Homo sapiens: one gene and its partners. The protein of the gene in region 2 purifies or fractionates together with the protein of the main gene of each other region. This does not show direct contact. Each region holds a gene or a part of one and is shown on either strand. Other genes may lie near its edges.

The links.
Region 1: the proteins of LTK (region 2) and DSG2 purify together in Homo sapiens (affinity purification with mass spectrometry; one large-scale study listed by BioGRID and IntAct). This does not show direct contact.
Region 3: the proteins of LTK (region 2) and NSUN2 purify together in Homo sapiens (affinity purification with mass spectrometry; one large-scale study listed by BioGRID and IntAct). This does not show direct contact.

The regions. Positions count from the first base shown.
Region 1 is NC_000018.10:31,546,295-31,549,611, forward strand, and holds the end of DSG2 (desmoglein-2 preproprotein), read left to right. Parts: coding exon 1-449; 3' UTR 450-2,714; downstream 2,715-3,317.
Region 2 is NC_000015.10:41,503,736-41,507,386, forward strand, and holds part of LTK (leukocyte tyrosine kinase receptor isoform 1 precursor), read right to left. Parts: intron 3,556-3,651; coding exon 3,360-3,555; intron 2,271-3,359; coding exon 2,180-2,270; intron 2,043-2,179; coding exon 1,978-2,042; intron 1,796-1,977; coding exon 1,666-1,795; intron 1,571-1,665; coding exon 1,473-1,570; intron 1,330-1,472; coding exon 1,237-1,329; intron 1,140-1,236; coding exon 1,038-1,139; intron 906-1,037; coding exon 771-905; intron 698-770; coding exon 607-697; intron 510-606; coding exon 261-509; 3' UTR 1-260. UniProt on the Homo sapiens protein: Receptor with a tyrosine-protein kinase activity. Following activation by ALKAL1 or ALKAL2 ligands at the cell surface, transduces an extracellular signal into an intracellular response.
Region 3 is NC_000005.10:6,602,031-6,605,681, forward strand, and holds part of NSUN2 (RNA cytosine C(5)-methyltransferase NSUN2), read right to left. Parts: intron 3,379-3,651; coding exon 3,243-3,378; intron 2,656-3,242; coding exon 2,575-2,655; intron 2,247-2,574; coding exon 2,108-2,246; intron 471-2,107; coding exon 431-470; intron 1-430. UniProt on the Homo sapiens protein: RNA cytosine C(5)-methyltransferase that methylates cytosine to 5-methylcytosine (m5C) in various RNAs, such as tRNAs, mRNAs and some long non-coding RNAs (lncRNAs).

The DNA of each region.
Region 1 (3,317 bases), on a different chromosome or scaffold from region 2:
CAGCTTCTACCTTGGTAGATCAGCCTTATGCTAATGAAGGTACAGTTGTGGTCACTGAAAGAGTAATACAGCCTCATGGGGGTGGATCGAATCCTCTGGAAGGCACTCAGCATCTTCAAGATGTACCTTACGTCATGGTGAGGGAAAGAGAGAGCTTCCTTGCCCCCAGCTCAGGTGTGCAGCCTACTCTGGCCATGCCTAATATAGCAGTAGGACAGAATGTGACAGTGACAGAAAGAGTTCTAGCACCTGCTTCCACTCTGCAATCCAGTTACCAGATTCCCACTGAAAATTCTATGACGGCTAGGAACACCACGGTGTCTGGAGCTGGAGTCCCTGGCCCTCTGCCAGATTTTGGTTTAGAGGAATCTGGTCATTCTAATTCTACCATAACCACATCTTCCACCAGAGTTACCAAGCATAGCACTGTACAGCATTCTTACTCCTAAACAGCAGTCAGCCACAAACTGACCCAGAGTTTAATTAGCAGTGACTAATTTCATGTTTCCAATGTACCTGATTTTTCATGAGCCTTACAGACACACAGAGACACATACACATTGATCTTAAAATTTTTCTCAGTCACTGATATGCAAAGGACCACACTGTCTCTGCTTCCAGGAGTATTTTAGAAATGTTCCACAATTTACTGAAGACATAGAGATGATGCTGCTGCTTAGGTGCCTTTTAGCAAGCTATGCAAACAATCCTGATAAAACAAGATACATAGAGAGTCAATCTGGCTTCTGAGAATTTACCAAGTGAACAGAGTACCTAGTTCATCAGCCGTCCAGTAAAGCAACCCAGGAAACTGACTGGGTCTCTTTGCCTACCGTATTAACATTAAACATTGATGTTCTGTATTCTGTACTTTACTGCACCCAGCAGACTTTCAACAACTCATTGATCCAAAGATACATGCACAGTCTGAGCACCAGCTATGGTGCTCATAACTTCTTTAAGACTTGAACCCTTTCAATCTGTGTGATTCATTAAATTGGACCATTGATGATAAGAATACACATTGTATGTTTCTGTGCACATGACAGTGTGTGTGTGTGCACGTACATACTGTATAGTCTTAAAAATAGCATTATACTGGCCAGGGGTGGTGGCTAACGCCTGTAATCCCAGCACTTTGGGAGGCCGAGGCGGGTGGATCAACTGTGGTCAGGAGTTTGAGATCAGCCAGGCCAACCTGGTGAAACCCCGTCTCTACTAAAAATACAAAAATTAGCTGGGCGTGATGGTGGGCGCCTGTAATCCCAGCTACTTGGGAGGCTGAGGCAGGAGAATCACTTGAACCCGGGAGGCGGAGGTTGCAGTGAGCCGAGATCGCACCATTGCACTCCAGTCTGGGCAACAGAGTGAGATTCCGTCTCAAAAAAAAAAAGAAAAGGAAAAAAAAATAGCATTATACCTCTTCCTTGTCTCAACCGCCATGAAAATTCTGAACACTCCAAATTCAGTTGAATAATCCAAAACAAAATTTATAAGTATAAAATAATTTTACTTCTTATAGTAATAGTATACTTTAAAAAGCCTCAGGGTATATTATCTTCTAAACAGCTACAATTCAGTGCAGCTACATTAACCAACTATGTTCTCTAGTTGAGAACAACTAGGCCTATTTCACTGCTGTGTAGCCTCAGTGCCTAACATGGGTGCCAAATAAATATTCGTAGAATTACACTGAATTGTAAAAACCATTCGTTTTTGTTTACAATTGCCAAAAATCTCAAAAGGCCCTGTATTTATGTAATTCTTTGAAATTATTATTTTATTTTGATTTCTCAGTTATTGACTGGCTGGGTGTGACTTAGTACATAAGTACTCAATATTATAAAAACCTCAAATAATTGACTTGATTTTACACAACATCCTTCCCTTTTCTACAAGTTAATTTTTTTACAAATCATTTGGGTTATCTCCTAAATAGGTTATATTTTATTGCTTCTAGAAACAATGTTTCAAAATATATGTGCATTATCAGTAATAATTTGTATAAATATTTCCCACAACAATTTTCATAATTTTCAAAGACTAATTTCTTGACTGAAGATATTTTGCTAGGGAAGTGAAACTTTAAAATTTTGTAGATTTTAAAAAATATTGTTGAATGGTGTCATGCAAAGGATTTATATAGTGTGCTCCCACTAACTGTACAGATCAGGACACATATTTTTAGACATCTAAGTCTGTAGCTTAAATGGAGGTTACTCTTCCATCATCTAGAATTGTTTACTTAGTAATTGTTGTTTCTTTTATTATTATAGACTTACTATCAGTTTTATTTTGCCAAGTATGCAACAGGTATATCACTAGTATATGAAAATGTAAATATCACTTGTGTACTCAAACAAAAGTTGGTCTTAAGCTTCCACCTTGAGCAGCCTTGGAAACCTAACCTGCCTCTTTTAGCATAATCACATTTTCTAAATGATTTTCTTTGTTCCTGAAAAAGTGATTTGTATTAGTTTTACATTTGTTTTTTGGAAGATTATATTTGTATATGTATCATCATAAAATATTTAAATAAAAAGTATCTTTAGAGTGACCCTTTCCCCATAGATTTTTATTTCTCTATTATATTTTACAAGGAATATAACTCAGTTTGTTAGGGAGAGTGCCTTAAAGGCAGGTGTTTCTTGGACTTTGTTATTTAATTAGATCTGCTTGCAATAAAAAAAGTTGTCGGTTATCTAAAATTCAAATTTATCGGGGTACTTGGCATTTTCATTGTCCAACTCTGGCAACCTTGTTCCTAAGGAAGTGAAGGTTGCTCTCTGCCCAGAGTAACACTGGAGAAATCTGTTGGGTCTGGCAGAAGAAGGCTAGTATATCTAACCCAAAGAGATGAAATCATTCTACCAATGTTTGAGAGGCTGTTTTAATTGCTTGTTATAGTTTAGAAGGGAAAAGATCAGAGTTGCTGCTATAAGAGAAGAAAAACAAATTTTCTTCTAGGTCCCCAGCTGGGGCTCTGTAACAAAACACAGATTAACAAGAGAAAAACAAACATTAGTCTGTTAACATGTGTATCTCATGCATGCTTTGGAGTAACTGGAATGAGCAGCTCAAAGGGGTGGTTAGAACTTGGGTGTAAAATGTTAAAAGAAGAGCTTTAAACAAATTAAATCTAACAGTTTACTTAAGCAAAGAAAGGTTCACAAAATTGGGCTGCCCTGGAACTAGAAAAGGTTCGGAGAACTCTATTCTACAATAATGAGCAGGCCGTATTCATAGACAGAAAATGGAAGTGAGGTAGGGAAGCTGCTTGATTGGTTACAGCTGAGCCTTTGCCTTATTTGGAGGTG
Region 2 (3,651 bases):
TGGACACCTGGGGTGTGTGTAAGGCGGCCTCTGGCCCCAAGATCAAAAGCTGGAAGTGGCTGGGCCCTTCCCTGGGAGGCCTGGGCTGGTTTCCAGCATGGCAAGTGCAGCGCTGCCAGGCCAGCCCCGAGACAGGCCCAGACACACAGCACAGACTGCAGGGAACAGAGGCCGCTGGCATAACAGGCCACCCAGGAGCCTGAGGAGTATAGGGAGGGACCCTCAGTGCCTCAGTCCTTACCCTCAGGGCCCCTTGGGGCTCAGGAGCGATAAGTGGGATTCCAAAGGTTCTGAGGTTGGAGGCCCCTGGATTTGAGGGGCTTGAGGCCAGAGGACAGCCAGGGGCCAAGAGGGCTACCTCCCCAGCTTTTCAACTTCTCTGGACTCAGTTCCTGGGGCTGTGGGGGTCTTAGGCACTCCAAAGATCTGTTCCCCAGCCCAGAAGTCCCTTCCTCCTCTGGGGTGGGCCCCAGCTCCATTGGCAGGAGTGAATTCAGCACATCCGGGTCCTGTAATGGAAGAGTCAGGGAGCAGGGGGGCATAGAGTTTTCTGGCCCTCCCTCCTGACCCACAAGACCAGGATGTTAGATTAGGTCGGGGGCACACCTGAGTGCAGTACTGCAGACGCTCCAAGATGCTGGCAAAGCTAGGGCGGAGCTCAGGCTCGTGCTGCCAACACTGGGTCATGATGCGGTACCTGGGGAGAGGCAGGAGTTCATGCCCACCCATGGTTGTGAAGGACCTCCCTTCCCGGGCAGCACTCAACTCACACAGGCCCTGGGCAGCCCCTAGGAGGGTCCATCCGGCCTCCTCCAACGACGAAGTCCAGCACCTCCTGGTTGGTGCGCCCAGGATAGGGCATGTAGCCCAGTGAGAAGATCTCCCAGAGCAGCACCCCAAAAGACCTGCATCACAAGTGGGGGAACCAAGTGAGGCCCGTCAGGTGTAGCCTCCCCTCACATGAGGTGGCTGGAAAGGACAGGATTAGCCTCAGGGGAGGGGAACAGTGGGGAAGGGGAGGGGAAGGGTGTTATCACCAGGAATCTGTCTTGGATGTGAAGATGCCCTCCAGGAAGGCCTCTGGGGGCATCCACTTGACTGGGAGCAAGGCCCGGTCCCCCCTGCGGTAATAACTGGCCCTACAGGAGGGAGGAGGTGAATGATGAGTTGTTCACCACCAAGGTGCGGGGAAAACCCCCTTGGAGCAAGAGCCTTCCCACCTCCCAAGTCCCGCACCGGTAGATATCTCGTGCCATCCCAAAGTCCCCAATCTTGGCCACTCGGCTGGGTCCAGCGCAGCTCAGCAGGCAGTTCCGGGCGGCAATATCCCTACAGAGTAGGCAAAAAAAATCACTGCCAGAATCTAGAAGTTCTTGCTCTTCCTGATCTATTTCCTTAAAAGCTGTGTGGAAGGGCTGTTCCTTGGGGAGGGAGTTGGGATGGGGGTCCCCTGAGCCAGGACTGCTCCTAACCTGTGGATGAAGTGATTTTCCTCCAGGTAGTGGCAGCCCTGGGCTATGTCCTGGGCCAGTTGCAGCAGGTCCCGCATGACCAGAGGTGATGGCTGGCCCTGGGTCAGGCAGAGGGGGCATCAGTCCATGTAGGTCTCAGACACATGGACAGGGTCTTTAGAGGGGCCTGGGGGGGCTAAGACAAGGGTCTCACCAGGTGTGGCCGACTGTGCCTCAGGAAACTCTTCATGTCCCCTCCAGACATCAGTTCCAGCAGAATGAGGCGAGGGGTGGCCCTGAGGCTGAGCCCCACACACCGCACAATGTTCTGATGGCGAAACTTGCTGAGTGGGGTGGGGGACATATCCCGTTACCAGGAGGGAGACGGAAACCATGTTTTAGGCTCCACAAAGCTGGAGAGGCCCTCTGTGTCCCCTGACTTGCTACCTCAGCCTCAGGGTGAAGAGAAACTGTTCCCGGGCATTCCCCTCCCGCCTTCCAGCCCTGCCCCTGGTCCCAGGTGCACCTGATGATGAGGGCCTCCATGAGGAAATCCAGCTCATCCTGAGGCGAGCAGAGTTCTGGCAGGGTCTGGGGAGGAAAAGGGCACAGTTTCTGAGCTGCCCTGCACGCTTCAGGAGAGGGGGTTAACCCTAGCTCTAGTCATTGTCCTTCCCTTCAGGGTGTTCCGCTCTCCTACCCCCAGCCAGAAGTCCCACTCCTCTCACCTTGATAGCTACCTGCAGGGGACTGGAGTCCCCAGGAAGGCCAATTACCAGTCCCTCATACACCTCCCCAAAGGCACCATGGCCCAGGGCTCTGCAGGAAGACACGTTGGAAGGGAGTGGGCAGGCGGCCTGGAGAAGAGTCCTAGAGAGTCTAGTACCCCCTTTACCTCCCCTGCCCCTGCCATATGCCCAGCTGACCCTATATAGACTCTCTCCATACCATGGCATGTCCCCAGGTAGAAGCCCTGCAAGGGTGGTGCTCACTGGCATAGAGCCAGGGCAAAAAAGAGGGCAGATGCGGGCCAGAGTCAAGGTGGGAGTGCATGATGAGGACTTCCCTGGTCCCTGCAGACGCCCTGGGCGGGAGGCAATCCCTGGGCTCCAAGAGTCATGATTTTTTTTCTTTTTTAAACGAAGTCTCACTCTGTCATGCAGGCTGGAGTGCAATAGCGCGATCTCGGCTCACTGCAACCTCTGCCTCTCGGGTTCAAGTGATTCTCCTGCCTCAGTCTCCCGAGTAGCTGGGACTACAGGCAAGCGCCACAACGCCCAGCTATTTTTTGTGTTTTTAGTAGACACAGGGTTTCACCATGTTGGCCAGGCTGGTCTCGAACCCCTGACCTCAGGTGATCCACCTGCCTTGGCCTCCCAAAGTGCTGAGATTACAGGCGCCAGATCATATTTTTTTTTTATTGAGACAGAGTCTCACTCTGTCGCCCTGGCTGGAGTGCAATGGCGCAATCTCGGCTCACCACAACCTCCGCCTCCCAGGTTCAAGTGATTCTTCTGCCTCAGCCTCCCACGTAGCTGGGATTACAGGCATGCGCCACCATGCCCAGCTAATTTTGTATTTTTAGTAGAGATGGGGTTTCTCCATGTTGGTCAGGCTGGTCTCGAACTCCCGACCTCAGGTGACCTGCCTGCCTCGACCTCCCAAAGTTCTGGGATTACAGGTGTGAGCCACCACGCCCAGCTGAGAGATCATATTCTAAGAACTGGGACGGAGAGGTGACATTGAGCAAGTTACTTCCCCTTCTGGAGCTTCTCAGGGCCTCCCTCTCCCTTACACAAGGGATGTGGGCCAGATTTTTTCTGGGACTTATAATTCACTACAGCAGGGAGAGAATCAGAGGTGGGGATTCAGAGTGCATAGGTTCTCAGAAGGAGGCAGAAGACTTACCTGAGCAGAGTAACATTGGCTGGGGAAACCTCGGTGACACCTGGTGGCAGAGGCCAGGACTGGGCCGGGCCAAGCCCCACCTGGCAATAATAGGGATTGGGGGCTGTCCTGATGGCAGAGGTTCGAAGCTTGCTCAGCTCAAGCTCAGGGCTCGGCAGCCTCATCTCCTGCAGGCCCTGCCACTTCTTCTGCTTCACTGGGGGTGGGAAGAATAACGGCACACCCTCCACCTGCCCATCAACTCTCCCTCCCCCACCTGCCCAGGACACCCCTCCAGATGCTCATTAAGGTA
Region 3 (3,651 bases), on a different chromosome or scaffold from region 2:
CAAGCGTGAGCAAATCCCATGCTCCGGCCCTAGCACTCCTGATGCAGTAACATGTCAGCAACACACATGGCTGAACCAGCCATGAGGACAAAAGAACGGAACCTCACTCAACTGTCCAATCTTCACACTTACTCTGTACAAGACAGAAATTTTCATTGGTTTCTAATGCTTAAAAAATAAGTACTATGCATTTTATTCTCTGTAAGTAAAAATTCACTTAGCCTGAGCTGAGTGTTCTATGAAACAGCATCTTCATGATGACCTACAGGAATATTTTGGTTCTGAAGTTTTCACAAGGCTACTTCTGAGGAACAATCACAAAAGGCCTGAAGAAGGTTCCCACCTTCCCAAGTCACTTTCCTCACCAACGAGAACACTGTAGCTAATGACAAGGCGTGTGTGTCTAAGGGCAGGGCGTGTACTGACTTACGCAGAATCTGGTTCATACTTCAGCACGATGCTTCCCTTTGCTGGAAAAGAAACAGACACACATTTGCCAGGTTTTCCAGGTAGTGGATGCATGCGCTGAGCACATTTCTGCACCTAGTGATGTGTTAAGTATTCTGAAGAAAGAAAACAACAAATAATCTACATTCTTGGCTTCAAGGATCTAGATGGTGAAAAGAGGCCGTCTGGATACATGAACCAAGTCCAAATGACGCAGTAGGGACGATCTGGAAGAGGACCCAGGCAAAAGCCATTCAGGGACTTCAAGGGATGTCACCTGACAATCCACTCTGAGAAGCAAGGAGGCTGGGGATTAACTGCTGGTTAATTCTTCAAAATTCAAAATTAAATAAACTATAACACCAACTCCCAGAATGGCATGAAATACATAAAAATTGTCTAAAACAATACTGCAATCATCTAAGTGCAGGATTAAAAGAAAACCAGTATAAACAGGTCCTTTATCCTTTACAAGAATCTCTACTTTAAATTGTGGTTCTTGCCTGGAGACGGCAGTGGGAGACAGACTCCACAGAGCATGTTTTATATCCCAAAGGAACCACACGAGTAAGTTTTAAACGCAAGTAAGAAACGTAACTGCAAGAAGTGATTCACGTACTTTTGATCAAATTGAGCCAAAAATATTAAACAGCAAGTTATTTAAAAAAATAAACAAGAATGAAGACAACAGAAAGAAAATTAGAACAGCTTGGAGAAATGATTTTTATGCTTAGGGGAAAACGTCACTGGAGTGATCTGAAGTGGAAGTTGATGAAATATAAAAGCAGCAATATGACCAATAATCTACTCCAGCTGGCTAGCAGAAAAGTCAGAACTGCTGGCAAGACTCTTATTTTGCTCTAACACAGGTGATTAAAATCTGCATGTTAGCCAGTCTCGTGAGGCTGTGTACCTTAAAAAACAAATTTACTGGCTGGGCGCGGTGGCCCACGCCTGTAATCCCAGCACTTTGGGAGGCTGAGACAGGCAGATCACAAGGTCAGGAGATTGAGACCATCCTGGCTAACACGGTGAAACCCCGTCTCTACTAAAAATACAAAAAATTAGCTGGGCGTGGTGGCGGGTGCTTGTAGTCCCAGCTACTTGGGAGGCTGGGGCAGGAGAATGGCTGAACCTGGGAGGCGGAGCTTGCAGTGAGCCGAGATCGTGCCACTGTACTCCAGCCTGGGTGACAGAGCGAGACTCTGTCTCAAAACAAAAAAAGAAAAAAACAAATTTGCTCATGCACAGAGACCTGCTTCCACCCACCCCCGACCTGCTGACAGGCAAGTGGGTCAAGAGCTCTGGCTGGGAGGCTTGCCAGGGCTGCTCACAGGCTGACCCCTCCTCTCCCCGGACTCTCTGGCCCAGCAAGGTGAGCAAAGGCCAGCCCTGCACGCCACACAGACACACCACAGGCTGCTGGGCAGCAGCAGGGCACCACCAGAGCCTGGGGAAGTACACCAACCCCAAGATGCCTTTGACCCTTAGCATTCTGAACTGTCAATCAGGGATCTACAGAACCCTCTGGAAATTGATGTAGCCATAAATAAACTGAAAACTATGATTGATAAATATGCCCCAACGCACACCACCTGCATTTTTGCTGGCCTTATAAAGGGAATACAAGTTATGTCTCTATGCATTTCCAACTACTCACCCAGGTCCTTTGCTTGACTGTAGGTCTCACTGCTGAGTTTTCTAAAAAAGGGATTTTCCTGGGTCAACAGTATCTTAACATCTTCCATTGATACAGTAATAATTCTTGAGTTAATAAATGGATACAATGTATATATTCCCTGTGTGAATAAAGAGAATGAGAGAACAGATACCATGATGTCATTCATGAACGACAACAGCCTGCTCTCAGGGGCTATGCTCTTAGCGGCTATGGTGGTCGAGCCCTCACTATGGCCCCTCCCCTTGGACAGGTGTGGAACCCACCCCCCCCTAGGAGGGGAAACCAGCACTCTGGGAGAGCTCTATAACCTGTGAGGGTCAAGTGGCTGGTAGGTGCCAGCCAAGCCCTGAGCCACTCAGACCATCTGGCTGACCAGCAAGCCCATCTACTCCCGACTGCTTCAGTCATCTGTGGCTACTGCTGTTCAAATCCACTTCCAAAATTACCTCCTGTGCCAGCCGGAAAGCACAGTCAAACTCTTCACCGCTGTTATTTCTACACCAGACTTTGATCCCCGTGTTAATAACCTGTAAGTAAAAAAATAAGATGAAACACAGAGAGATGAAGACAGGACCATCTCCTGTAAGGATGCCGGGCCACATGGAGCAACCGTCACGGAATGGGAAAGGAGAGGAGAAGCAGAAACCCACCGAGAAACCCCGGTTAAGAACGAACTGATACTCACAACTTGTGATTACGTCGTTTGGAGGACAGTAAAGCAAATGAAAGAAGGGCCCCCAAATGGCCAAATTCTAAGGGAAGTACCTCAAAGGACAAATCCCAAGGGTCGGGGCAGCAGTACTCGCAGCCTCTACACCTTTAGTACCTTCTCTGCCCAGGAGGGCGAGCTGTGAGAACTACACCATGGCTCACCCCCCTGCGGGAATGGGGCACAGAAAAGACACAGGCCACCAGATTCAGGACTCTGGCAGGAACCATTCAGCCCTGTGTCAGTCAACAGCTCTGAAATCAAAGGGCAGGCTCAGGGACCCACAGCCAGCGCTACAGGTGGGGAGGGCAGATGTCACGGTCTGCTCCAAATGAAATCTAAGCCGCTGTGAAAAGCCACACGCATCCCGCATCACACAGCACTCAGCGTCTGTGCGGCTGGCACCTTCATCTTCTCACTGTTATTCAGCAGCACATTCCGCAACTCCTTAGAAACCATGTAGAGCTGCCTTTTCTTCCCTTCTGTAGTCCGAGTTAACAAATTCATCCTTGGGAATGAAGGATCCAAAGCATAAAATTTCCTGTACATAACAACATTGTTGTTTATCCACAATGAGTTCAAAATCTGGTAGACTGTTTCTAAACATCTTATTCTCCTCCTCCAGAATTCAATCCCCAAAACTGCAGTGTGGTTCAAGGGCACTGGGCTCTGCTCTGGACTCCAGCTTCTAAACTTCATCCACTTCCACCTGAAACCTCCACGTAACATTTATTTGGGGCACAACTCCATCAGAAACCTAAATTAACAAGTGCAGCTTCTCTCCCTCAGCCGCTACTCCAATGATAATGACCTG